7 linked regions of the Homo sapiens genome follow. The protein of the gene in region 3 interacts with the protein of the main gene of each other region in a pairwise test. Each region holds a gene or a part of one and is shown on either strand. Other genes may lie near its edges. The genes, in order: ZBTB4, PIAS2, SPATC1L, PARN, TRMO, NUTF2 and MISP.

Region 1 (3,500 bases), on a different chromosome or scaffold from region 3:
CAGGGGCCTGGGCCTCAGCCCTGTCACCCTCCCACTCCCCAGCTGGCCTGGGCCCGGGCCCAAAGCTGTCCTCTTCAGGCTGCGAGGTGGCCATGGGGGCTGGGGTAGGAGGTACCCAGGCATCACCTCCCTCCCCCAGGCCCTGAAGGCGGGAGATGCCCAGACGGCGCCCCAAAGCTCCAATCTCTGCTACAGCTGCCCCGTCCCCTCCACCACCAGGCAGTGCGAGCCGGGCGCTGTAGATGAAGTTGAGGACATCAGAAAACGCAGCTGCTGGGACTCCTGGCAACTCCAGGACCCGGGGTGGGGAAGAAGCAGGGGGAGAGGCTGGAGGGGGAGAGGAAGAGGAAGAGGAAGAAGAAGAAGAAGCAGAGGAGGAAGAAGAGGAAGAAGACGAGGAAGAGGAGGAGGAGGAAGAGGCAGCTGTGGTGGTGGCAGGGTTGGGTGCGGCGCCCCCAGTAGCTGGTGGAAGGGGTAGTGGGGCTGAAGTGAGCAGGGCCTCTCTGAAGAAGGGACTTGAAGCAGCCAGGACGCTGCGGTGAGCAGGGAACTTGGTGTCTCCGGCTATGAGGGTGACGTCACAGAAGAGGCCACGGAGCCGCTGTTCATTGAGCTGGCGCAGGACGGCGGGGGCATGGGACGGGTCCGTCACCTCTGCAGGGGGGGGCATGGTGCCAGCCTAGACAGTGGGAGAAGAGGCCGGGTAGAGTCTCAGAGGCTGGGCAGAGGGCAGGGGCTTCTAAAATCAGGCAGAGAGAGGATCAGGAGCTGCTGGTCAGAAACTAGTGGAAGGCTGAATCACTTCTGGTCACAGAAGTCAGGGGTTGGCCCTTAGCCACCCAAGTCTGGCCAGCATCCAAGACCAGTATGTCTAACTCACTTCTGAGGCTGGAAGAGGCCAGAGATACCTCAGGTCATGGTGAAGGTCAAGGGGTCATGACCTCTGAAGTCACAGACTAGAGATGTAAGTGAGGCAAATCTCTCTCATGGGAAGGAGGAGGAAGCTCCACAACTCCTGATAGCCATTTCACAGAACTCCCCAGCCTAGACAAAATGGCCGCCCCTGCTGGCCTGCTGCCTTGGGTCTACTTTGTCCTCACTGTAGGCCTCTGGGTACCTTCTCACCTGAGAGCACAGCCAACATGGAGTGGGGCGGGGGGTGGCTCAGCGAGTCCCTTCTGCTGGGCCTCTTCCTTCTGCGGAGAAACAGAAATTATGTCAGGGGAACCTAGAGGAGGAGCAGAAGAGGGTCCTCAAGGAGGGAAGTGAGAGGAAAAGCCCCCAGGAAGTGGGGAGGGGTGCAGTACTGTGGCCAGAGAGGACACCTGGGTGAGCCCAGACCCCTCCCCGGAGCCTCTGCCAGGTTATTTGTTTAGCTGTGTCCAGTCAAACCTGGGAGGTCACGCAGATTATTGCAGAGCCTTGTTCTGCGGGCCCAGAGAAGTACAGTGACAAGATAATTTGCATATTCCCAATTCACCTCCAAACAATATAGTAGCACAGGTCCAGTCCATAGGTTCAGGGAAGCCTGTCACAGCACTCTCAAGTCCCTTTGGCCCAATCTCCAGGGCTCAGAGGAAGTCAAAGATTTGCATGTTGTCATTTATCACAATGGTCTCATTTACATATCAAAATAATTTGTGAGTTTTTAAAAATTGGACCTAAGCTGGTAGATATTCAAATTAGGAGAGGACATCCTCACATCCTTCCAGCCCCATAAATCTTAGAAGGGGGTTTCTGGCGCAGCTGCCAGGCAACCATTGAAGACCACTGACCCATACACAACTGCCAGCTTGCTCCAGCCTCTGGAGGGCACTGGAAAGGCCACAAGACCAGGAGGCCTGGTCCCACGCCTTACTCAGAGACCTGATGCCCTAGGGATCTGGACTTAAAAAGCGGCAGAATCACAACTCCTACCTCACCTCTTGCTGGGAGACTCGTCCAGAGGGAAGAGCAAGGCCAGGCGCGGGGGCTCACGCCCGTAATCCCAGCAGTTTGGGAGGCCAAGAGGGGTGGATCACCTGAGGTCAGGAGTTCAAGACCAGCCTGACCAACATGGTGAAACCCACATCTCTACTAAAAATACAAAAAATTAGCCGGGCGTGGTGGCACGTGCCTGTAATCCCAGCTACTTGGGAGGCTGAGGCAGGAGAATCACTTGAACCTGGGAGCTGGAGGTTGCAGTGAGACGAGGTCACGCCACTGCACTCCAGCCTGGGCAACAAGAGCAAAACTCCGTCTCAAAAAAAAACCCCCCAAAAAACAAAGGGAAGAGCAGACAACTGAAACGCAAGCTCAGGCAGTCAGCAGCAGAGAAAGCACCGCGCAGCCACCTTCCCCTGCAGGCACCATCAGGGCCTTGAAGACTCTTTTCAGTTGAAGGTTTGAGTTCAAAAGCCAGACTTATCCAAAGTCACACAGCGCTGGTAATGACAGGCGGCACCTATTTAGAGATCCAGGCCCGCAGACTTGAGAGCAGAGCTCTCCGGACCCTCTCCTCTGCCCTCCACAAAGCCTGGGAGCTGTCACCCATCTTTGAGGGTGTCCTTCCGTATGCCGTGGGCCACGTGTCTTCAGAGGTGTCCGGCATCAGGAGTTCCTCATACAATTCCCATCCCCTGAAAAATCTTCTTTCCCATTTATCACTCATACTGTCTGGACTCAAAGGCCTTTTCCCCACATATACCCCATTTCACATCCCCCAAAATATTTTCCTGACACCTCTCCTGGATGGGAAGAAGGAAGATGGTAAACAGGGATGATATTCCAAAGTTTTAACAACCCTGTCTGCCAGGGACTGATGAGGTTCTGGGTCAAGTGTTGCCCTGTCAGTTGGTGAATTTCAGGTAGGTCGTAGGTCAGGCATCCTGCGGAAGGGGCCTCACTGCATTCACAGGCTGATGCCCAGGCCTCCTACTCGCCTCCATGAGAACCACTGGCTCACCGGGACCCCAAGAGTCAGTGTTTTATTTGGATTACCTCATTTGTTCCTTATCACTACCCTGAAAGGTAGCAGTTAGCTTTCCCTCCTTTTAAATTTTATTTATTTGTTTTGAGATGGAGTCTCGCTCTGCGCCCAGACTGGAATGCAGTGGTGCAATCTCAGCTCACTGCAACCCCCGCCTCCTAGGTTCAAGCGATTCTCCAGCCTCAGCTTCTTGAGTAGCTGGGATTACAGGCGTCCGCCGCCATGCCTGGCTAATTTTTTGTATTTTTAGTAGAGACAGGGTTTCACCGTGTTAGCCAGGGTAATCTTGATCTCCTGACCTTGTGACCTGCCTACCTAGGCCTCCCAAAGTGCTGGGATTATGGGCGTGAGCCTCCATGCCTGGCCACTTTCCCTCTTTAAGGCCGGGCACGGTGGCTCATGCCCGTAATCCCAGCACTTTGGGAGGCCAAGGCGGGCGGATCATCTGAGGTCAGGAGTTCTAGACCAGCCTGGCCAATGTGGCGATCTCTACTAAAAATAATAATAAAAAAAAAATTAGCCAGGCATGGTG
Region 2 (3,500 bases), on a different chromosome or scaffold from region 3:
TCCTTTGCCAAATAATGTTATCACTGGAAATATGAGATATGAGACCTCCTAGAAATTCCTCTGAGAGTCAAGCTTAGGTAGGATGACTTTGTGCTTTGTTTTGTCATTTCTGTAAAATAGCTTCCCTTAAAATGAAGAATATCTGACAATAAGTATAAGGAGTGAAGCAAAGTAGTGAATTCTGAGTTAGAAAAAATCAGTTATGTTTTATCTGTGTGATTGCCTTTTTTAGTATTAGTGTTCCACAATCAATTGAAGTATTTACTAAGATTGAGGGAAAGATGCATCGTATTACTTGCTTGGGTAAACCCTTCCCAAGAAGCTGTTGTCTTCTGTTTAATGCATGAGATGTTGAGTAAGCTGTGACTGGTTTGTTATGAGATAGGCCAAAAGTTTTCTTGTTTTCCTTCTTTGTTGTCTGCACTGTAGAGGTAACACACATTGTGGTATGTGTTCTATTAGAGTATGATTTAGAGCTACCACAGTGTGGTAGCTAGTGGCCACATGTGGCTCTTAAGCACTTGAAATGTGGTTAGTCCAAATTTAGATGTATTGTAAGTGTAAAATATACACCAGATATTGAAGACTTAGTATAAAAAAAATCCCACTGACACTTTAAAAAATGATTATTTTTAAATTACAAAAATTGATTGCATGTTGAGATGAAAAGATAGTTTTGATATATTGGGTTAAATAACTATGTTAATGTAAATTATCATTATTATTATTATTATTTTTGAGACAGTCTTAATATTGCCTAGGCTGGAATATGGTGGTGTGATCACAGTTCACTGTAGCCTCAAATTCCTGGGCTCAAGTGATCCTCTCGCCTCAGTCTCCTGAGTGGCTTGGACCACAGGCACACACACCACCATGGCTGGCTAATTTTTAAATTTTTGTGGAGACGGGGTGTTAGTATGTTGTCCAGTGTGGTCTCGAACTCCTGGGCTCAAGTGATCCTCTTGTGTTGGCCTCCAAAAGCACTGGGATTATAGGTGTGAGCCACTGTTCCTGGCCTAAATTAGTTTTTTTAATGTGACTACTAGGAGGTTTAATGTGTGTCTTCTATTAATTTGTGTTGGACAGCACTGAATTAGAGTATAAAATGGCTTGCCAGGATTACAATTTAATATTCTCTCACTTGTACATTATGAAATATAGAGACATATATAGTACACAAAGTACAGTTATGACAGTGTATATGGATTACTTTGGCATATTTAAATCTGTTTGCATTTTAGTAAACTAGCAAGTATTTATACCAACAAGTATTTAAAAACCATATAGGGTTTTAAACAGTTGCTTCTGGGCCGTCCCTGAGACTTAAAAAGTACAGAGCAACTGCCCCACATTTCCACTATACTGATGAGACAAGCAGGTTGAAAAGGAATCCCAAGTGACTGTGGAGTGTGTAGCACGGGCTGGGTTGGGGGAGTGATGAGGATGGGATGGGACACCAAACCACAGGTAGTTCTCCTGGGTAGGTTTCTGACAGGGCTTTGGTCAGCTCCAGGTGTTCTTCCTCTTTCTTGCTAGATGATGCATGTGTGGTATCTGACCCAAGTGTGATTTGCCTCTGAGTTCAGAATTGACTGGAAATCACTAAGTAGGTGGATTCCTGAGGCTGCAAGGGGTTAAAAATATTCATTAAGTTTTGCTGAAAAAATAGAAGGTGTGATGTGAAGCTGCAACTGCTTATAACCTTTGTTTTACGCCCAAGCACAAGCCAGTAGAGTAGTGTGGAGGAAATGTTGCCCTTTAAGATTGATGACTGCTCATTTCCTTGCTCTTCAAAGGTCTTTTTCTCATTTGGATACCCAGCTGGGAATTTCAGTTGTTTTAGAAGTTTGACTGCTAAATAAGATGTATGTGATTTTTTAGCTTTAATATTTTAAAATATCTTTATTATGTTGTTTGTTTGTTAATGTTTGAATTGGGGTAAAAAATTCATTGCATTTTGGATCACAGTTCTGACTTGATTTTTATGGATTTACTACTCAGCATCAAAAGTTACACATCTAACATTGTGAAAATCTGATTTTTTGTTTGGTTAATTGGCGATAATTCTGTAACAAACATTACATTGTATATTGGGAGGGGTTGGTTTTGAAAAGGAGTATATTCATTGGTGATAGATTTTATAGTCATAAAGCAAATAACTGTTTGCATTAGAGCATAATCAGATAATGAAGTGGTTAGTAGAAACCAATAGACTATAGATTACCAAAATTAAGATCTTGTACAACAAAATATAATTAACACCGTAACTTGAATGTAATTTTTACGGGATTGTCTTATGAATGGTAATGATTCTAAGTGGTATGTGAAATGCTGTTACTAGCACATGCCAATTGATAGAATGCTGGAAAAATCACATTTTACATTATATTTTAGATAGGATTTTTGTATGCTTGAGGGTGACTTGGCTTATGTTTTTTTTTCTTTCCTTTTAGAATATGGTTTCTAGTTTTAGGGTTTCTGAACTACAAGTATTACTAGGCTTTGCTGGACGGAATAAAAGTGGACGCAAGCATGACCTCCTGATGAGGGCGCTGCATTTATTGAAGAGCGGCTGCAGCCCTGCGGTTCAGATTAAAATCCGAGAATTGTATAGACGCCGATATCCACGAACTCTTGAAGGACTTTCTGATTTATCCACAATCAAATCATCGGTTTTCAGTTTGGATGGTGGCTCATCACCTGTAGAACCTGACTTGGCCGTGGCTGGAATCCACTCGTTGCCTTCCACTTCAGTTACACCTCACTCACCATCCTCTCCTGTTGGTTCTGTGCTGCTTCAAGATACTAAGCCCACATTTGAGATGCAGCAGCCATCTCCCCCAATTCCTCCTGTCCATCCTGATGTGCAGTTAAAAAATCTGCCCTTTTATGATGTCCTTGATGTTCTCATCAAGCCCACGAGTTTAGGTAAGTGTTTGAGAATTCAGTTTCTTCTGAACAAGATAGTAAATGAAATGAGAGACCTTCAACTATTGATTAATGATGTGCTGTTAATATAGTGAAATTGAGGCATCAATGCCGAATGTTTGAATATACGGATAAAAATTCGGCAACCATGACTGAAATCTAATAGAAGCTTTATTTCATATCATTTGATCTTTCTTCTTCTCCAATTCTTTTATTGTAAAATACACATAATATAAAATGTATCATCTTGATCATTTTAAAGTGTACAGTTGAGTGGTGTTAAGTATGTTGGTAATGTTGTGCAGCCATCACTGCCATCCATCTCCAGAACTCTTTTCATCTTCTGAAGCTGAAACTCTGTACCCATTAAACAATAGCCTTCCTCTCCTCCTCTCCCACTAGCCCCTGGCAGTTACCATTCTACTTCCACTGTCTATGATTTTGACTATTCCAAGTACCTCATGTCGTTGGAATCATACAGTATTTGTCTTGTGACTGGCTTATTTCACTAAATGTAATGTCCTCAAGGTTCTAGCATGCTGTAGTTTATGTTAGAATTTCTTTCCTTTTAA
Region 3 (3,500 bases):
CTCTGTAAACATCCTCTGTGGATGGGGAGGAGCCTCCTGCTCTGTGAACATCCTTTGTGGATGGGGAGGAGCCTCCTGCTCTGTGAACATCCTCTGTGGTCTGACGCTGGGCTCAGGTGTGTTCACTTTCTTTGCTTTCCACACCAAGGGGGAGGGTCCATGCCCACCAACACCTCCTGGCCCCACACCCTCATGAGGACTGAATATTCCCCAACCAGGCTGATGAGGTCATGTGGCATTTCCCCAATCCCTGGCCAAATTTAGCTTATCTATGCCTTTATGGCTTATGAAATTCTATTCTACCTCCATGTCATGTGTATTCTCCTAGCAATAAAGCAAATACATATTAGAGAAAGTGTTCGGAGCCATATCAAAAAATTATACCTTAAAATGTGCCTACTGGAGCTTGCAGTGAGCCAAGATCGTGCCACTGCAATCCAGCCTGGGCGACAGAGCAAGAATCCATCTCAAAAAAAAAAAAAAAAATGTGCCTACAAAGGAACCAACTAATCTTCCCTCTGAAATGTTTTCCAAGGAAAAAAAGTTCGAAAGAAGCAAAGTCATCAGCGTGTGCCCGGCCTCCTGCCACGTGGGAGGCCTGGAGTCCTCAGGCTTCACAGACCCCCCACCCCAGACACTTTTCAAATTATAAAAGAATATTATGTACAATTATGTATTAATTAAAATTTCAATAAAAGGAGATAGCCTGGAAAATTACTTTCAAGTGACTCAATAAGAAGTAGAAAACCTAAATGAACCAATACACAAAGAAGGAAAATCTAAAAGTTATGAAATGATTATTCCCCAGAGGGCTGCAGGCCTGGATGGTCTGTGGGTGAGTGTGCCAAGTTCCCAAACAAGTCATAATCCCGACATCATACAAATGAGGCTGGAACCGTAGAACAGGTTAAAAGATGCTCAATTAGGTTTCAAAATTTGTCACAACTCTGATGTCAAATTCCTACAAAGATAACCCCCAGAAAAAAAAAAAAAAAAAAAAAAACCATGGCCAGGCCAAAAATAATTGCACAAAGTCTCATCCAAACATGATCAAGAACACACAGCACGAGGCAGGAGTGTGCACAGAGCATGAGGCAGGAGTGCAGAGCATGAGGCGGGGGATGCACAGAGCATGAGGCAGGAGTGCAGAGCATGAGGCGGGGGATGCACAGAGTGTGAGGTGGGGGATGCAAAGAGCGTGAGGCGGGGGATGCACAGAGCGTGAGGCGGAGGATGCACAGAGCGTGAGGCGGGGGTTGTGCAGAGCACAAAGCGGGGAGGTGTGCAGAGCACAAGATGGGGGTGGAGAGCATGAGGCAGGGGTGTGTGCAGAGCACGAGGCGGTGGGGTGGAGAGCAAGAGGCAGGGTGTGCAGAACCCAGTGGCTGTGCAGCGTAGCAAGATACCAGATACGGTCCCTGGCAAGAAGCTGAGATACCTCCACTGGTACAGAGATAGGCTCACAAACACCGAACAAGATGAGCCATTTCTCAAATTTTCTGTTTTCCAAAAATAAGAACAGGAAGGACTCTTCCACAGCATCCAGCCTGTGCAAACCTCCCTCCTCTGGGCAGATGGGACCGTTGGTCCTTCCCACAGCTGGTCAGGAGGACCAGGATGCGGCCAAAACCCTCTCTCACCTTCCCTGGAGGAGGCCCCATGAAAGTCAAGGCCAAGGCCCGAGTTCTGAGTAATAAGGACAAAGACAGAAATAAGAAGTTCATGTGGATTGGAAGGGCGGGATGGCCGGCCAGATGCAGCCAGATGATACAGCTCCCACGGAGGGCCTGAGATGACTGGTGAGCTTCTAACACATCTTCAGAGGGAAGGTGCTGAGGGCAGATGGAGGGAGCACACAGAAGCTGGGCTGAAGGGGAGAAAGCTGGGAACCTGCCTGGGACTACTGAGCACTGGTGCTCATTTTTGGACCCACAACAGCTCTGGGGAAATGGGGGAGTTAAACGGGCAAGGAGCAACCCACTGTTGCCATGGGCCTCTGGAACCCCAGCTGGGGGAGACCCCTTGCCCACCATGGACACTCTAGTTGGCAGGGAGAGCTGCTTAGAGAAGTGATGGGGGCAGCAGCCAGCTGAAGCAGAACCCAGAGGGTCTGGTGCAGGAACACAGCCAGGGACGGCCGTCCCCCAGGCTTGATTTGCTCCCACAGGAGACTTTGGACCTAGGGGAACTGTCAGACCTGTTCTCTGCAGGGTGGTCTTACCCATCAGATGGGACCAGTCCAACCTGAGCACCCCTTCGTCTGCTGGCCTCTCCTGGGGCCCCAGCCTGGCCATGCCTGCTTGCAGGGCAGTCTTGGGTGCCCTGGGGGTCTTCACCATAGCTTCTGTGCCAGCAGACTGTGCCTGGCCAGTGGAGAGCTCCAGTGAGACAGCCCCGACGGCCACACACCAGCCTGCCTGCTCCCTCCTCATATTGTAGCTTCCCCTGGGCCCAGGCAACTCCCCACATCACTCTGCTGATGTCTGCACAGGTGGGTTTTGATTTCCTTCCCCCACCAGCATGCAGGAGTCCAGTGGGCCTCCCCTTTCCCTACAGACTTCCATTGCAGGTGAAGCCTTGGCAGACACAGAGCCAGCAAGCCCCATACCCGCCAGAACCCTGCCTTTGACCTAACACTGAGCAGAGAACAGTGGATCCTCCCCCACCCTGAGCGATCACTCCTGCTTGCAGGGCACAGAAAAGGCACCTAGACCTGTGCCAACCAGCACCCCACCCATGCCTATAGTACCTCCAGAGTAACTGCACACAGTCTCCAACAGGAGCCCCCCATCCCCACCCCAGCTGCTTTGCCTCCACCACTGTGGTGAACCCCCACAGGAAGGCAGGCACTCTGCATCTGCCAGCCACTCTGCTGTAGCTGCAGTACCTCAGCCCCCCAGTGCAGTGGATTCCAAACCTCAAGGAGCCAGAGAACAAAGTCAGGGCCCAAAACAAGTCCCCCAGAGCTAGAGCATGCAGAGTCCAGGAGTTGGCAGCTGGGCACTGGCCCCTTAAATATTCCATAAATGAAGCCAGTTGGCTGAATCCACCTTATACCACAATCAAAACCTCAAGGTCATCAAACAGACCAGGCATGGTGGCTCATGTCTGTAATCCCAGCACTTTGAGAGGCTGAAGCAGGTGAATCACTTGAGGCCAGGAGTTCAAGACCAGCCTGGCCAACATGATGAAAACCCATCTCTACTAAAAAATAGAAAAATTAGCCAGGCATGGTGTTGGGTGCCTATAATTCCAGCTACTTGGGAGGCTGAGGCAGGAGAATCACTTGAACCTAGGAGGCAGAGGTTGCAGTGAGCCGAGATTGTGCTACTGCACTCCAGCCTGCCTGGGAGACAGAGCAAGACTCTGTCTCAAAAAACAAAACAAAAAAAAAAAAAAAACAGAATGGCAAGCTAGATAAAGAACCAAGACCCATTGGTATGCTGTCTTCAAGAGACCCATCTCACATGCAATAACACAAATAGGCTCAAAATAAAGGC
Region 4 (3,500 bases), on a different chromosome or scaffold from region 3:
TGTTAACAAACGTTGGGAATTCCGTTTTTGTGGCACAATGTCACCTCCTAAGTCTCCTTTTATCTTATCCCAGGTATATAACGAAGTCATTTAACTTCTATGTTTTCCCGAAACCCTTCAATAGATCCTCACCAGATGTCAAATTTGTTTGTCAGGTAAGTAGCATAATTGAGATTTTTCTTTTCTGAATTGCTGATGAGGCAGCATGGAAATGTGAAATCAGAATTTGGTTCTCTATTAACTTTGGGCTTTGGGGCAAATCATTTCACCTTTGACCTTCAGTTTTAGGGTAATAAATTCATGACCCTGTTATCTCCTCCTTTGCTGTAGAATGAATTAAGGAGGGCCAGGTACGGCGGCTCATGCCTATAATCCCAGCACTTTGGGAGGCCGGGGAGGGCGGATCATGAGGTCAGGAGATCGAGACCATCCTGGCTAACATGGTGAAACCCTGTCTCTACTAAAAATACAAAAAAAAAAATTTGCCGAGTGTGGTCATGGGTGCCTGTAATCCCAGCTACTTAGGGAGGCTGAGGCAGGAGAATGGCGTGAACCTGGGAGGTGGAGGTTGCAGTGAGCCGAGATCACGCCCCTGCACTCCAGCTTGGGCAACAGAGCGAGACTCTGGCTCAAAAAAAAAAAAAAGAATGAATTAAGGAATAAGATGCAGAGACAGACAGACAGATATGAGAACATGAGGTTTAGTAATTCTAAAGCTGAATTTGAGAACATAGTTTCGTAACTCCATTTGGGATTTTTATTATTTTACCCCCAAGTTGAACCACCTACACATCAAGACTTGCAGGCTTCTTGGCTGGATGTGGTGGTTTACACCTGTAATCCTAGCAGTTTTGGAGGCCAAGACGGGAGAATCACTTGAGCTCAGGAGTCTGAGACCAGCCTGGGCATAAAATAGTGAAACCTCATCTCTATTTTAAAATAAAAATTAAAATAAACAAAAGACTTGGAGGCTTCTCCCTATCCTCACTCATTCTCCTCGCATCCACTCTGAGGGTGTAGACCTTTATTTTCTGGAAAAGCAGAGTATGTGTGTATCCTATGCAAAAAGAGAAAGCGCAGAAGGGGTTCAAGTATTTATGCTGACTTCCTTTTCTCAAGCTCACTAATTAGGAAAGGGGGGTAGAAAAAAAAACTACTGTTTCTCTTGAGGAGAAGAGAGCTTAATTGATGGGTCAATATTAGGGAGGTTCTCCTTCAGGATATTCCCTCTAGAGGTGTTGTAGCTGACCTGGTAGACACTCAGTAAATATCACTGTTTCCTTTCTGCTCTTTTGATTATCTGTTGTAATGGATAAGGAGAATGTGAGTAAGGGGTATGGTTGTGTGGCTATGTGATTAAAGATAAGTCTTAATCTTTTCTCCCTTAAAATCTTGCATCCTATCTTCTCTCCCACTAAAAACATGAATTCATTTGAGTCTTGCCATCTTTCCCTTCTCTTGCAGATTAATGGTAATGCAGTTATGAAAGCCTCGAGGGTAGGCTTCAAGTGATTGAGTTATGTCAAATTCTTTCTCAAAACTGGCAGTATATAAACAAATGAAATCGAGAGTTAATCATATGCTTATGGGCAAAAGAGAAAAGGTGAAGGTTAAATTCTGGTCTTATAGACAGTTTCCTAAATTAGCAAGTAAACCAGTTGACATTTTACCTTTACCCTGCAATCAGTTAATAGCTATTTGTCAATCACCGTGGTATGGGATACTTAAAGAGTATTTATAAATTTTCTTTTCTTTTTTTTCTTGAGATGAAGTTTCGCTCTTCTTGTCCAGGCTAGAGTGTGATGGCATGATCTAGGCTCACTGTAACCTCTGCCTCCTGGGTGGAAGCGATTCTCCTGCCTCAGCCTCCCGAGTAGCTGGGATTACAGGCATGCACCAAGATGCTCAGCTAATTTTGTATTTTTGGTAGAGGTGAGGCTTCTCCATGTTGATCAGGCTGGTCTCGAACTCTCGACCCCAGGTGATCTGCCCGGCTTGGCCTCCCAAAGTGCTGAGCCACCGCACCCGGCCTTACAGTTTTGTTTTGTTTTGTTTTTTTTTTGGTAAATTTTCATTGAGGGAAAAGTAGGCTCAGTTGGGAAATTTGTGTGGATATAGTTTTCTAGCAGTACCAGCAACACAGAATTATTTAAAGTGGGTTCCATGGCTTTGGCCAGGGGTTAATCAAACAAAAGCAGAGGGTGGCAATGAGACACCTTGGGGATGGCACTTTGTTCTTTTTTTTTTGAGATGGAGTTTCGCTCTTGTTGCCCAGGCTAAAGCCCCGGGTTTAAGTGATTCTCCTGCGTCAGCCTCCTGAGTAGCTGTTATTACAGGCATGCACCATCACGCCGGCTTATTTTATATTTTTAGTAGAGATAGGGTTTTTCCATGTTGGTCAGGCTGGTCTTGAAATCCCGACCTCAGGTGATCCTCCCATCTTGGCCTCCCAAAGTGCTGGGATTACAGGCATGCACCACCACACCGGCTAATTTTATATTTTTAGTAGAGATGGGGTTTCTCCATGTCGGTCGGGCTGGTCTCAAACTCCTGACCTCAGGTGATCCTCCCACTTTGGCCTCCCAAAGTGCTAGGGTTACAGGCGTAAGCCACCACATCTGGCCGATGGCACTCTGTTCTAAACAACCAAGACAAAACTGGTTATTTTGAGAAATGTATTGGAAACAGATCAGAGGAACTTCACCCATTGTACAAACCATGATTGTACACCTGGAATACTTAATACAGTTGTAGTTGCCAGCCACTCCTTTAAAAAAAGCTATCATAGACTTGAAGATAGCCCAGAGAGTAATGTCTAAAACAGATGAATAAAAATGCCGGGATTCTCTAGTGTGGAAAAGCAAAGGCAGAGAAAAGGTTTAGACTCTAAATTTGGGAATTGTATGAAAAGGTTAATGTATTTTTGGATTTTCTTTGGTCTCTCATTTAAGGTTTTTGTTTTATTTAAAATTCTATAGTTGTAGCAGAGTTGCATACAAGGGCATTAGTTTCTGGAGTTATTAAGTAGGGTGAAAATTGGGTCAAAATCTCTCTCAGAAAGCTCTTATCACCCTTAAAGCATATAGGATTTGAGGATACAACAATTTAATATGTTCTTTAAAAAATAAGACCCTGTGTGCGCAGTGAGATGCTCCCATATGCTTGTCAAGATGTGGAGGAATGGGCTGACAGAACCACACTCACACCCAGAAGAGTGTGTTTGTAGAATAGTAGGGCAGTCAGCATAGCATGACATTTACATCATTTTTGTCTTCTCCTTTTTCTTTTCTTCCTCTTCCTTTTTCAGGCTGAAGATCTGTAGTTGAATTCATAGAAGGTATTTTATATATATGGTTGTGAAAAATTGAAGCATAACTGCTGTATGTAGAGTAACAGATGTGTTTCTTTTCTTTTTTTTTTTTTTGAGATGGAGCCTTACACTGTCGCCCAGGCTGGAGTGCAGTGGTGTGATTTCGGCTCACTGCAACCTCTGCCTCCTG
Region 5 (3,500 bases), on a different chromosome or scaffold from region 3:
CCTGGGTGACAGAGTGAGACTCCATCAAAAAGAAGAAGCTGGTTGCCAAGGAGATGTCAGATTGCAAAAAGCTGTTCTTTGTGTTACAACTCAGTAAGGAGCCAGCATAACCATATAAAGAGGGAAGTTCATTTATTCATTCTACAGTTGTTTACTGAGCTTCTGCTAGGTACCAGACATTGGTCTAGGTTCTTGGAATACATCAGTGAACAAAACAGATATAAAAAACCCCTGCTGTCATGGAGCTTGCATTCTAATGGGGAGGAGAGAGACAAATTAAAAGTATAATAAGCAATCAAGTTATTAGACCAAACATATTCAACATTATATAATATTAGAAGGTGATAAGAGTTACTGAAAAATTTAAGAATACAGCAGGCTTGGAGTGTTGTTACTATTTTATTTTATTTTTGAGACAGGGTCTCACTCTGTCACCCAGACTGGAGTGCAGTGGCAAGAACATGGCTTACTGCAGCCTCAGCCTTCCGGGCTCAAGCAGTCCTCCCACCTCAGCCTTCTGTGTAGCTGGGACTACAGGTGTGCACCACAACACCTGGCTAATATTTTGATTTTTTTTTTTTTTTTTTTTGAGACGGAGTCTCGCTCTGTCGCCCAGGCTGGAGTGCAATGGCTCGATCTCGGCTCACTGCAAGCTCCGCCTCCCGGGTTCACACCATTCACCTGCCTCCGCCTCCCGAGTAGCTGGGACTACAGGCGCCCGCCACCACACCCAGCTAATTTTTTGTATTTTTAGTAGAGACTGAGTTTCACCGTGTTAGGCAGGATGGTCTCGATCTCCTGACCTTGTGATTCCCCCGCCTTGGCCTCCCAAAGTGTCCAGATTACAGGTGTGAGCCACCGTGCCCAACCTATTTTGAATTTTTAAAGAGACGGGGTCTCATTTTGTTGCCCAGACTTGTCTTGAACTCTTGGGGGTCAGGGGATCCTCTGTCTCAGCCTCCCAAAGTGCAGGGATTACAGGTGTGAGCCACTGCACCTAGCCTGTTGCAATTTTAAATAGGTGGCCCCAGTGGGCCTCACTGAGAAAGACACATATGAGCAAAGGTCAAAGAGGTGAAGACATGAGCCAGCCTGTCCAGAGAAAGGACATGCTGGCCTGAGGGACAGCCAGTGCACAGCCGCAAAGTGGAGGGTGCATGGCACGTTTGAGGTCATGTGGTCAGAGTGGACTGAGGAGGGCTGAGCGGAAGGATATGAGGTCAAAGAGGCACTAGAAAAGGGACGAGGTCACCTAAGGGTTTTATAGGCCATTGTAAGGACTTGAGTTTTGATCTTGGGAGAAGTAAAAGGCAGAGGAACTTGATGTCCGTATCCCCAGAGAGCAGGGGACCATCTCTGGGGTCAGATCACTACCTGTGTGATTTCTGGGATGTCACACCTCAGTGACATGCAAAGGCAAGCTGGAGTTCCTTATTGAGACAATGAAGACTTTCATTCTATATCCAGAAAATAAAGGCTTACACAACCAAAGATACTAGATTTTCCCCTGCTTTACTAGCAGGGAGAGAATGAAGAGGCTAGGGGGGTATTTGGCTTTGATAATCCAACCTGAAGGAGGTTTTTCTGATGGGAAAAAGAAGTCTAAAAGTTGGGACTGGAGATACATGCCAACTGACTCTGAGATTTCCCCATTTCTTCCTGTCAGAGCCACAGCCAGCCCACACTGTTGCCTTTTGCAAAGGAAAAGCCACCCCTTCCTCTGGGTGGAGGCAGCCACCTGCCAGGGCCCAGGAACTGGTTTTAGCCCCAACATGCAAACTTCAGCCAAGTGCCGTATGCAGGGCACCCCCTGCACTTCTGGACACGGCAGTCTCGTGGTCATGAGTGGTGATGCCACTTGAGGGTTGTGCTTCTCTTTGGCTCCTAAGGCTTTACTTTTAAACAAAGCTTTTGATTTTAAAATTGATCTTTTTATTTTTAAAAGTTTTGTTGATAGAAATCATTACATCACTGTATACAGTTGATGGGAGGAGGCTGGTCAGTTGTAAAAGGATTTTATGGTGGAACAAAACAGTCCTGCCTTCTAGACACTTTATGCTTACCACTTGTCCTGTGGTTATTGTCTAATGCAAACTACTATGGAAAGTTTTGTTTTTCTTTCTTTTCTTTTTTCTTTCTTTCTTTTTTTTTTTTTTTTTGAGACGGAGTCTTACTCTGTCACCCAGGCTGGAGTGTAGTGACGCGATCTCGGCTCACCGCAACCGCCTCCTCCCGGGTTCAAGCGATTCTCCTCCCTCAGCCTCCTGAGTAGCTGGGATTACAGGCGTGAGCCACCACACCCAGCCTGGAAAGTTTTGTTTTTTAAACTGCAGTGCAGTATGTGTCAGATGTTTGAAATATGCCTTACTGATTAAAAAAATGATTAAAATGAGAAATTACGCAGTGTAACTACAAAACAGGAACTGATTGATAGCAAACAGCAAAATTCAGAGCTGTTGCAGAAATAAGAAGTGACTTCAGGAAGTTCTGAGTCTAGAAGAGGTTAAAGGTGTTGAAATGGGAGGAAGTTTGGTGCTGGAGTAAAGGTCTGGGCAGAGTGCTGTGGGCACTCTGAGAGGAGAATCCTGACTTGTGTCTGGGAGGGAGTGTGGAAGGAAACAGTGCTTGAGCTGAGCCTGGCAGGATGAGTAGGCAGGGAATTGGGGGAAGGCACCCATGCCAGATAAACGGCCAAGCAGAGGCCTGGAGCCTCTCCCAGAAACGCCGTCACAGGGGAGTGTGATGAGCTCTCCTCATTTTTGAGTGGCCTTCAGAGCCATTTTCTATGAGCCATGCAGTAAAGGAACCTTATTGCCATATAATTGATTTTTTTTTTTTTTTTTGAGATACAGTCTCTTTCTGTCACCCAGGCTGGAGTGCAGTGGTGCAATCTTGGCTCACTGCAACCTCCACCTCCCGGGTTCAAGTGATCCTCCTGCCTCCTGAGTAGCTAGAATTACAGGCGTGCGCCACCATACCTGGCTAATTTTTTTGTGTGTGTGTATTTTTAGTAGAGATGGCGTTTCACCATGTTGGTCAGGCTGGTCTCAAATTTCTGACCTTGTGAGCCTCCTGCCTTGGCCTCCCAAAGTGCTGGGATTACAGGTGTGAGCCACCGTGCCCAGCCCATATAATTGATTTTTGACTAAAAATTGTACTTCATGGCTTTATTTACCCAACCTGCTTATTAGATATGGCCCACAGTGATTTTTGGCTGCTTGTAGAAATCAAATCCACTCCAAGAGGGATAAAGATCCACTGCCACCACAGATGATATTTTGAGCAGGGACAGTGTTTTTAAGATCTGTACCTTCCTGGAAGGGGCATTTGGATGTATGTGATGTTGTAGTTATGAAAAACTAGGTCACAGTTACTTTCTAAATTTATGTTTTATACATACCATATTAAAAATAAAATACATTAAAAATCCTACAAACATAGGAAGTTTTGCTGTTTCTTAGGGACACAGATGTGAGAGAGTCCCAAAGCAAAGGGATGTT
Region 6 (3,500 bases), on a different chromosome or scaffold from region 3:
TATGATTATCTTCACTTTATAGACAAGGAAACAAAGACTCCAAGAGGTTAAGAAAGAATTTAAGACCACAAAAGGCCACTGGCATAGCCAGCATTAGAATGTCCACAAAACTGGCCGAGATGGGGCCGGGCACAGTGGCTCATGCCTGTAAACCCAGCACTTTGGGAGGCCAAGGCAAGTAGATCACCTAAGGTCAGGAGTTTGAGACCAGCCTGGCCAACATGATGAAACCCCATCCCTATAAAAAATACAAAAAATTGGCCATGTGTGGTGGCAGGCGCCTGTAATCCCAGCTACTCCGCATGCTGAGGCAGGATAATTGCTTGAACCCAGGAGGCAGAGGTTGCAGTGAGCCAGGATCACGCCACTGCACTCCAGCCTGGGCAACGAGAGCAAAACTCCGACTCAAAAAGGAAAACAAAAGCAAAAAAAAAAAAAAACTGGGCCAGGGATGGTGGCTCACGCCTGTAATCCCAGCACTTTGGGAGGCCGAGGCAGGTGGATCATGAAGTCAGGAATTCAAGACCAGCCTGGCCAAGATGGTGAAACCCTGTCTCTATTAAAAATATAAAAATTTGCCAGGCGTGGTGGTGGGTGCCTGTAATCCCAGCTACTCAGGAGGCTGAGGCAGAGAATTGCTTGAACCTGGGAGGTGGAGGTTGCAGTGAGCTGAGATCACACCACGGCACTCCAGCCTAGGCGACAGAGCGAGACTGTCTCAAAAAACAACAACAACAAAAAAAAACTGGCCGAGATGCAAACAGCTGAGAGCCAATGTGGAGTAGCAGAAAGCACCTAAGTGACAAAATCAGGTGTTACAAGAACATGTCCATACACCTGTCCACCTTCTTCAGGGACGTCCAGATTGGCCACATCGTAACAGTGGGTGAGTGCCGGCCCCTGAGCAAGACAGTACGCTTCAACGTGCTCAAGGTCACCAAGGCCGCTGGCACCAAGAAGCAGTTCCAGAAGTTCTGAGGCTGGACATCTGCCCACTCCCCGCAATGAAATAAAGTTATTCTCATTTCCCCCATCCCCCCCCCCCGCCAAAAAAAAATCGGGTGGCAAGGAATGCAGCCCAGGCCTTGTCTTCCCCTATGAAATCAGCAAGCTCCATGGAGCCTCAGAATGGAAGAACCTGAGCACCTACTCAGCAGGTCAAAGCAGCTTTACACCTTAGGACAACTGAGAATTTGCATTCTCCTAGTCCTGAAACCACCTGCAAGTGGAACCAGTATCTCCACACAGAGCTCTTTCCTGGGGCAGCAAGCTTTCCAGTTTCTGCCCTCGGGAGACCCACTGGCTCTGATGGAATCATTCGAGACTTTAAGAAACAAACATTCCAAAATTCCCCCAGTTTACTGAGGACACTGGGACAAACAGCCCTCAGTTCCCAGGTACCCCAGAAACCCCTCTCTAATAAGGGTTCCCTATCCCCATAGCAGCCCTGTCTCCAGCCTGGGGGCTTAAGGAGCTGGCACACAGCAGGTACAGCAACAAATGAGTAACGCCCCAGACAATGAAAAGAAGTTCTTGGCCACTGGTCAGCCAGCAGTAGGAGCCCTGTGGCCCCTAGGCAGGCCACCCTGGGCCTCGTGTCCCTCTCCCTTGGCCACTAAGACACGTTCCCAGCCAAACCCAGACCCAAGCAAAGCATTCTGCCCAGGAGGGCACACTCCAGCTGATAGGGTGAGGAAAAAGAGGGTGAATAATATCACATGACCTAAGTCACTCCAAGGATAATCCATACACTGCTGGCTCCCCGAGGGAGGGACTCAAGAATTCCTGCCATATATGATCAAAGGAAGAGAGAATCACAGAATCACAAAGCCAGGAAAGGGGTAGCCAACTCAAACTGAACTGCAAACACACAAACATCATTCTCAAATGCCCTATCAAAACATTAATTAAAAAAAAAAACAAACCAGCACCCAGCACAAGGTTCGGCTCAACCTCAGCTTAAAGAAATCCTGCCCAACTTTTTTTTTTAAAGACAGAGATCTCCCTTTGTCGCCCAGGCTGGAGTGCAGTGGCGCGATCTTGGCTCACCGCAACCTCCGCCTCCCAGGTTCAAGCAATTCTCTTGCCTCCCGTGTAGCTGGGATTACAGGTACCTGCCACCATGCCCTGCTAATTTTTTGGAATCTTGGTAGAGACGGGGTTTTGCCATATTGGCCAGGTTGGTCTCAAACTCCTGACCTCAGATGATCCACCCACCTTGGCCTCCCAAAGTGCTGGGATTACAGGTGTGAGCCTCTGTGCCCGGCCAAGAAATCATGCCCAACTTTCAATGTCTATTCTGTGGAAAACTTTTAGGATTCACTCCCCTTGCCCCAAAAGGACTATTCCTCTGTCCTGGAGGCCTCAACGAAAATGGTCTGAATTGGATTCTAAAACAAGCGCTATTGGTATTTCCAAAGTCCCTGCTGTCTCCTGTTTCCCTCTGTAAGCCCCCAGGCAAGGGCCATCTGTTGAAGGAACATCCAAGGAGCCTCCCTGACCAGGTCTGCTGAACCTCCCACCTCTGTGGAGAATTCCTGTCTGGTGCCTGGGAAGATGCCCTGATGGGTACCACCACAGGAACAACTATTGGGCACTTAAAGTGACCATAGGAGGGTCTCAGTGAAAGGAGGAGAAGCCACAAACCCATGCTCCAAGCAGGGGACTAGAAGGCCTCGCACAGGCCAGGCAAGCAGTGGCTCACGCCTGTAATCCCAGCATTTTGGGAGGCCAAGGCGGGCAGACCAAGAGTTCAAGAGATCAAGATCATCCTAACCAACATGGTGAAACCCCATCTTTACTAAAAATACAAAATTTAGCTGGGCGTGGTGGCGCGTGCCTGTAGTCCCAGCTACTTGAGAGGCTGAGGCAGGAGAATTGCTTGAACCTGGAAGGCAGAGGCTGTAGTGAGCTGAGATCATGCTACTGCACTCTAGCCTAGGTGACAGAGCGAAACTCCATCTCAAAAAGAAGGCCATGCACAACAGGCCAGGCGTGGTGGCTGTTCCCTATAATCCCAGTACTTGGGAGGTTGAGGCAGGAGGATCACCTGAGCTCAAGAGTTCTGAGACCAGCCTGGGCAACACAGTGAGATCCCGTCTCTACAAGAAGTTGTAAAACTTGGCTGGGCACAGTGGCTCACATCTGTAATCCCAGGACTTTGGGAGGCTGAGGCAGGAGGATTGCTTGAGCCCAGAGTTCAAGACCAGCCTGGGCAAGATAGTGAGACTTTTGTCTCCACAAAAACTAAAAAATAGAATATAAAAATTAGCAGGTGTGGCCAGGCACAATGGCTCATGCCTGGAATCCCAGCACTTTGGAAGGCTGAGTGGGCAGATCACAAAGTCAGGAGTTCGAGACCAGCCTGGCCAATATGATGAAACCCTGTCTCTACTAAAAATACAAAAATTAGCCAAGCATGGTGGCAGGAGCCAGTAGTCCCAACTACTTGGGAGGCTAAGGCAGGAGAATCTCTTGAACCCAGAAGGTGGAGGATGCTG
Region 7 (3,500 bases), on a different chromosome or scaffold from region 3:
CACAACCCCAGGGGCCAGCCAGGCCCCCAAGGCCTTCAACAAGCCCCACCTGGCCAACGGGCACGTGGTTCCCATCAAGCCCCAGGTGAAGGGGGTGGTCAGGGAAGAGAACAAGGTGCGTGCTGTGCCCACCTGGGCCAGTGTCCAAGTTGTGGATGACCCTGGCTCCTTGGCCTCAGTGGAGTCCCCGGGGACCCCCAAGGAGACGCCCATCGAGCGGGAGATCCGTCTGGCTCAGGAGCGTGAGGCAGACCTGCGAGAGCAGAGGGGGCTTCGGCAGGCAACCGACCACCAGGAGCTGGTGGAAATCCCCACCAGGCCGCTGCTGACCAAGCTGAGCCTGATCACAGCCCCACGGCGGGAGAGAGGGCGCCCGTCCCTCTACGTGCAGCGGGACATAGTACAGGAGACACAGCGTGAGGAAGACCACCGGCGGGAGGGCCTGCACGTGGGCCGGGCGTCCACACCCGACTGGGTCTCGGAGGGTCCCCAGCCCGGACTCCGGAGAGCCCTCAGCTCAGATTCCATCCTCAGCCCGGCCCCAGATGCCCGTGCGGCCGACCCAGCTCCAGAAGTGAGGAAGGTGAACCGCATCCCACCTGATGCCTACCAGCCGTACCTGAGCCCCGGGACCCCCCAGCTAGAATTCTCAGCCTTCGGAGCATTCGGCAAGCCCAGCAGTCTCTCCACAGCGGAGGCCAAGGCTGCGACTTCACCAAAGGCCACGATGTCCCCGAGGCATCTCTCAGAATCCTCTGGAAAACCCCTGAGCACAAAGCAAGAGGCATCGAAGCCCCCTCGGGGATGCCCGCAAGCCAACAGGGGTGTCGTGCGGTGGGAGTACTTCCGCCTGCGTCCTCTGCGGTTCAGGGCCCCAGACGAGCCCCAGCAGGCCCAAGTCCCCCATGTCTGGGGCTGGGAGGTGGCTGGGGCCCCTGCACTGAGGCTGCAGAAGTCCCAGTCATCTGATCTGCTGGAAAGGGAGAGGGAGAGTGTCCTGCGCCGGGAGCAAGAGGTGGCAGAGGAGCGGAGAAATGCTCTCTTCCCAGAGGTCTTCTCCCCAACGCCAGATGAGAACTCTGACCAGAACTCCAGGAGCTCCTCCCAGGCATCCGGTGAGAAGGGGCTCCAGGGAGTGGCTGCTTGGCTCAGGGTCTCAGAGGTTGGAGCAGGGGAGGGTGGGGAGGTGGAGTTTGAGGCTGTCAAAGGGCTGGGGTTGGGGAGACATTGCCTCCTGACTGTTCATCCCCTCAGTCGCTGGTTTGTCTGCCTGTCTATTAAAAATGTAGATTTTGGAGAGAAATGTCAACTTTACCTTAGGGCTTTTGCTTTATGGATTTGGATGCCTTGTTGTTAGGCGCATAAATGTTCATATATGTTTTGTGTGTTTTGTTTTTGTTTTTGTTTTTTGTTTTTCGGTTTTCTTTTTTGAGACGGAGTCTCGCTCTGTCGCCCAGGCTGGAGTGCAGTGGCAGGATCTCAACTCACTGTAACCTCCACCTCCTGGGTTCAAGCGATTCTCCTGCCTCAGCCTCCTGAGTAGCTGGGATTACAGGTGCCCACCACCACTCCCGGCTAATTTTTGTATTTTTAGTAGAGACAGGTTTCATCATGTTGGCCAGGCTGGTCTTGAACTCCTGACCTCAGGCGATCCACCCTGCCTTGGCCTCCCAAAGTGCTGGGATTACAAGCATGAGCCACTGCTCCCGGCCTGTTCATATATGTTTATCCTCTTGGACAGTTGCACCTTTTTGACAATATGAAATATTCCTTGTGTCACTTTTAATGTTTTTTTTTTTTTTTTTTGAGATGGAGTCTCGCTCTGTCACCCAGGCTGGAGTGCAGTGGCGCGATCTCGGCTCACTGCAAGCTCCGCCTCCCGGGTTCACGCCATTCTCTCGCCTCAGCCTCCTGAGTAGCTGGGACTACAGGCGCCTGCCTCCACGCCTGGCTAATTTTTTTGTATTTTTAGTAGAGATGGGGTTTCACCGTGTTAGCCAGGACGGTCTCGATCTCCTGACCTCGTGATCCACCCACCTCGGCCTCCCAAAGTGCTGGGATTACAGGCGTGAGCCACCGCGCCCGGCCACTTTTAATGTTCTTCACCTTGCATGTCGGCCCATCTGTGCATCCAGTTTCTCCTGACTGGCTACTTTGGTCAATCTGTCAGTTTCCCGGATAGTCATCTGCTCTGTCTGTCCATACATCTGTCTCCTTAGCTGCTGGCTAGAGACTCTGTCTCCCGAGCAGAGGTCTGACAAATGTTCTAATGTTCTGCCCTCCCTGCTCCCCTACAGGCATCACGGGCAGTTACTCGGTGTCTGAGTCTCCCTTCTTCAGCCCCATCCACCTACACTCAAACGTGGCGTGGACAGTGGAAGATCCAGTGGACAGTGCTCCTCCCGGGCAGAGAAAGAAGGAGCAATGGGTGAGTCTGGAACCCGTCTCTGCAGAGGCCAGGCTGAGGTCAGACAGCCCCTATTAGGGCCACAGGAAGTTCAAGCAGGACTCAAGCCTGACCTGGGTTCAAGCACTACCCCCACCCCTGGCCGTGCCTCAGTCTCCTGCAGATGTCAGGTAGAAGATGATAAACTTGGTGTCCTTGTATCTCTGGGCTTCTGCTTGGAGAGGCCATATAAGCTGGGGTCTTTGTCCCCATCAGGAGGTCATCTCCAGGATCAAAGACCAAAGGACCAACTCTGCTTGGAGGAGGAGGACACTGGCAATTTGTCATCGTCACCAGCATTAGTTTCTTTTTTTTTTTTTTTTTTTGAGACGGAGTCTCACTCTGTCGCCCAGGCTGGAGTGCAGTAGCACGATCTCGGCTCACTGCAACCTCCACCTCCCGGGTTGAAGTGATTCTCCTGCCTCAGCCTCCTGAGTAGCTGGGATTACAGGCGTGCACCACCACGCCCGGCTAATTTTTTTGTATTTTTAGTAGAGACGTGGTTTCACCATGTTAGCCAGGCTGGTCTCAAACCGATCTCAAGTGACCTGCCCACTTGGGCCTCCCAAAGTGCTGGGATTATAGGCATGAGCCACTGCACCTGGCCACAGATATTTACTTCTAAGAAAGAGAGAGAGAGAGAGAGAAGGCAGGAGGGAGGGAGGGATGGAGGGAAGGAAGGAACAAAGCGAGGAAGGAAGGGAGGGAGGGAGAGGGAGAGACGGAGGGATGTGTCTGTCACACGCTGGCTCGGGGCTTCCAATGAACCACACCTTTAGCACCCTGGTGGTCTCACATGCCCAGGGTTAGGCAGCTCATGAACCCAGGCTTGACTCCAGGACCTACAGGCCACAGAGCTTTGCCTTAGGGGTTTTACTTTATGAATTTTGATGCCTTGTTGTTAGACATGTAATTGTTCATGTATGTTTATCCTCTTGGATGAGAGCTCCTTTTGTCAGTATGAAATATTCCTCACGTCACTTTTAATGACACGAGGAATATTTAGTGCCATGAGGAATATTATGTCCTTTTTTTTTTTTTTTTTTTTTTGAGA

The links.
Region 1: the proteins of SPATC1L (region 3) and ZBTB4 interact in a two-hybrid assay, tested with the Homo sapiens proteins (one large-scale study listed by BioGRID and IntAct).
Region 2: the proteins of SPATC1L (region 3) and PIAS2 interact in binary tests that used the Homo sapiens proteins (3 or more experiments, as listed by UniProt).
Region 4: the proteins of SPATC1L (region 3) and PARN interact in a two-hybrid assay, tested with the Homo sapiens proteins (one large-scale study listed by BioGRID and IntAct).
Region 5: the proteins of SPATC1L (region 3) and TRMO interact in binary tests that used the Homo sapiens proteins (3 or more experiments, as listed by UniProt).
Region 6: the proteins of SPATC1L (region 3) and NUTF2 interact in binary tests that used the Homo sapiens proteins (3 or more experiments, as listed by UniProt).
Region 7: the proteins of SPATC1L (region 3) and MISP interact in binary tests that used the Homo sapiens proteins (3 or more experiments, as listed by UniProt).

What each region holds. Positions count from the first base shown.
Region 1 is NC_000017.11:7,466,132-7,469,631, forward strand, and holds part of ZBTB4 (zinc finger and BTB domain-containing protein 4), read right to left. Parts: intron 1,197-3,500; 5' UTR 1,126-1,196; intron 680-1,125; 5' UTR 671-679; coding exon 1-670. UniProt on the Homo sapiens protein: Transcriptional repressor with bimodal DNA-binding specificity. Represses transcription in a methyl-CpG-dependent manner.
Region 2 is NC_000018.10:46,890,008-46,893,507, reverse strand, and holds part of PIAS2 (E3 SUMO-protein ligase PIAS2), read left to right. Parts: exon of another isoform or gene 1-77; intron 78-2,453; coding exon 2,454-2,928; intron 2,929-3,500. UniProt on the Homo sapiens protein: Functions as an E3-type small ubiquitin-like modifier (SUMO) ligase, stabilizing the interaction between UBE2I and the substrate, and as a SUMO-tethering factor.
Region 3 is NC_000021.9:46,170,960-46,174,459, forward strand, and holds part of SPATC1L (speriolin-like protein), read right to left. Parts: intron 1-3,500.
Region 4 is NC_000016.10:14,623,761-14,627,260, reverse strand, and holds part of PARN (poly(A)-specific ribonuclease PARN), read left to right. Parts: intron 1-73; coding exon 74-155; intron 156-3,500. UniProt on the Homo sapiens protein: 3'-exoribonuclease that has a preference for poly(A) tails of mRNAs, thereby efficiently degrading poly(A) tails.
Region 5 is NC_000009.12:97,905,501-97,909,000, reverse strand, and holds part of TRMO (tRNA (adenine(37)-N6)-methyltransferase), read left to right. Parts: intron 1-3,500. UniProt on the Homo sapiens protein: S-adenosyl-L-methionine-dependent methyltransferase responsible for the addition of the methyl group in the formation of N6-methyl-N6-threonylcarbamoyladenosine at position 37 (m(6)t(6)A37) of the tRNA anticodon loop of tRNA(Ser)(GCU).
Region 6 is NC_000016.10:67,853,433-67,856,932, reverse strand, and holds part of NUTF2 (nuclear transport factor 2), read right to left. Parts: intron 1-3,500. UniProt on the Homo sapiens protein: Mediates the import of GDP-bound RAN from the cytoplasm into the nucleus which is essential for the function of RAN in cargo receptor-mediated nucleocytoplasmic transport.
Region 7 is NC_000019.10:757,612-761,111, forward strand, and holds part of MISP (mitotic interactor and substrate of PLK1), read left to right. Parts: coding exon 1-1,115; intron 1,116-2,297; coding exon 2,298-2,428; intron 2,429-3,500. UniProt on the Homo sapiens protein: Plays a role in mitotic spindle orientation and mitotic progression.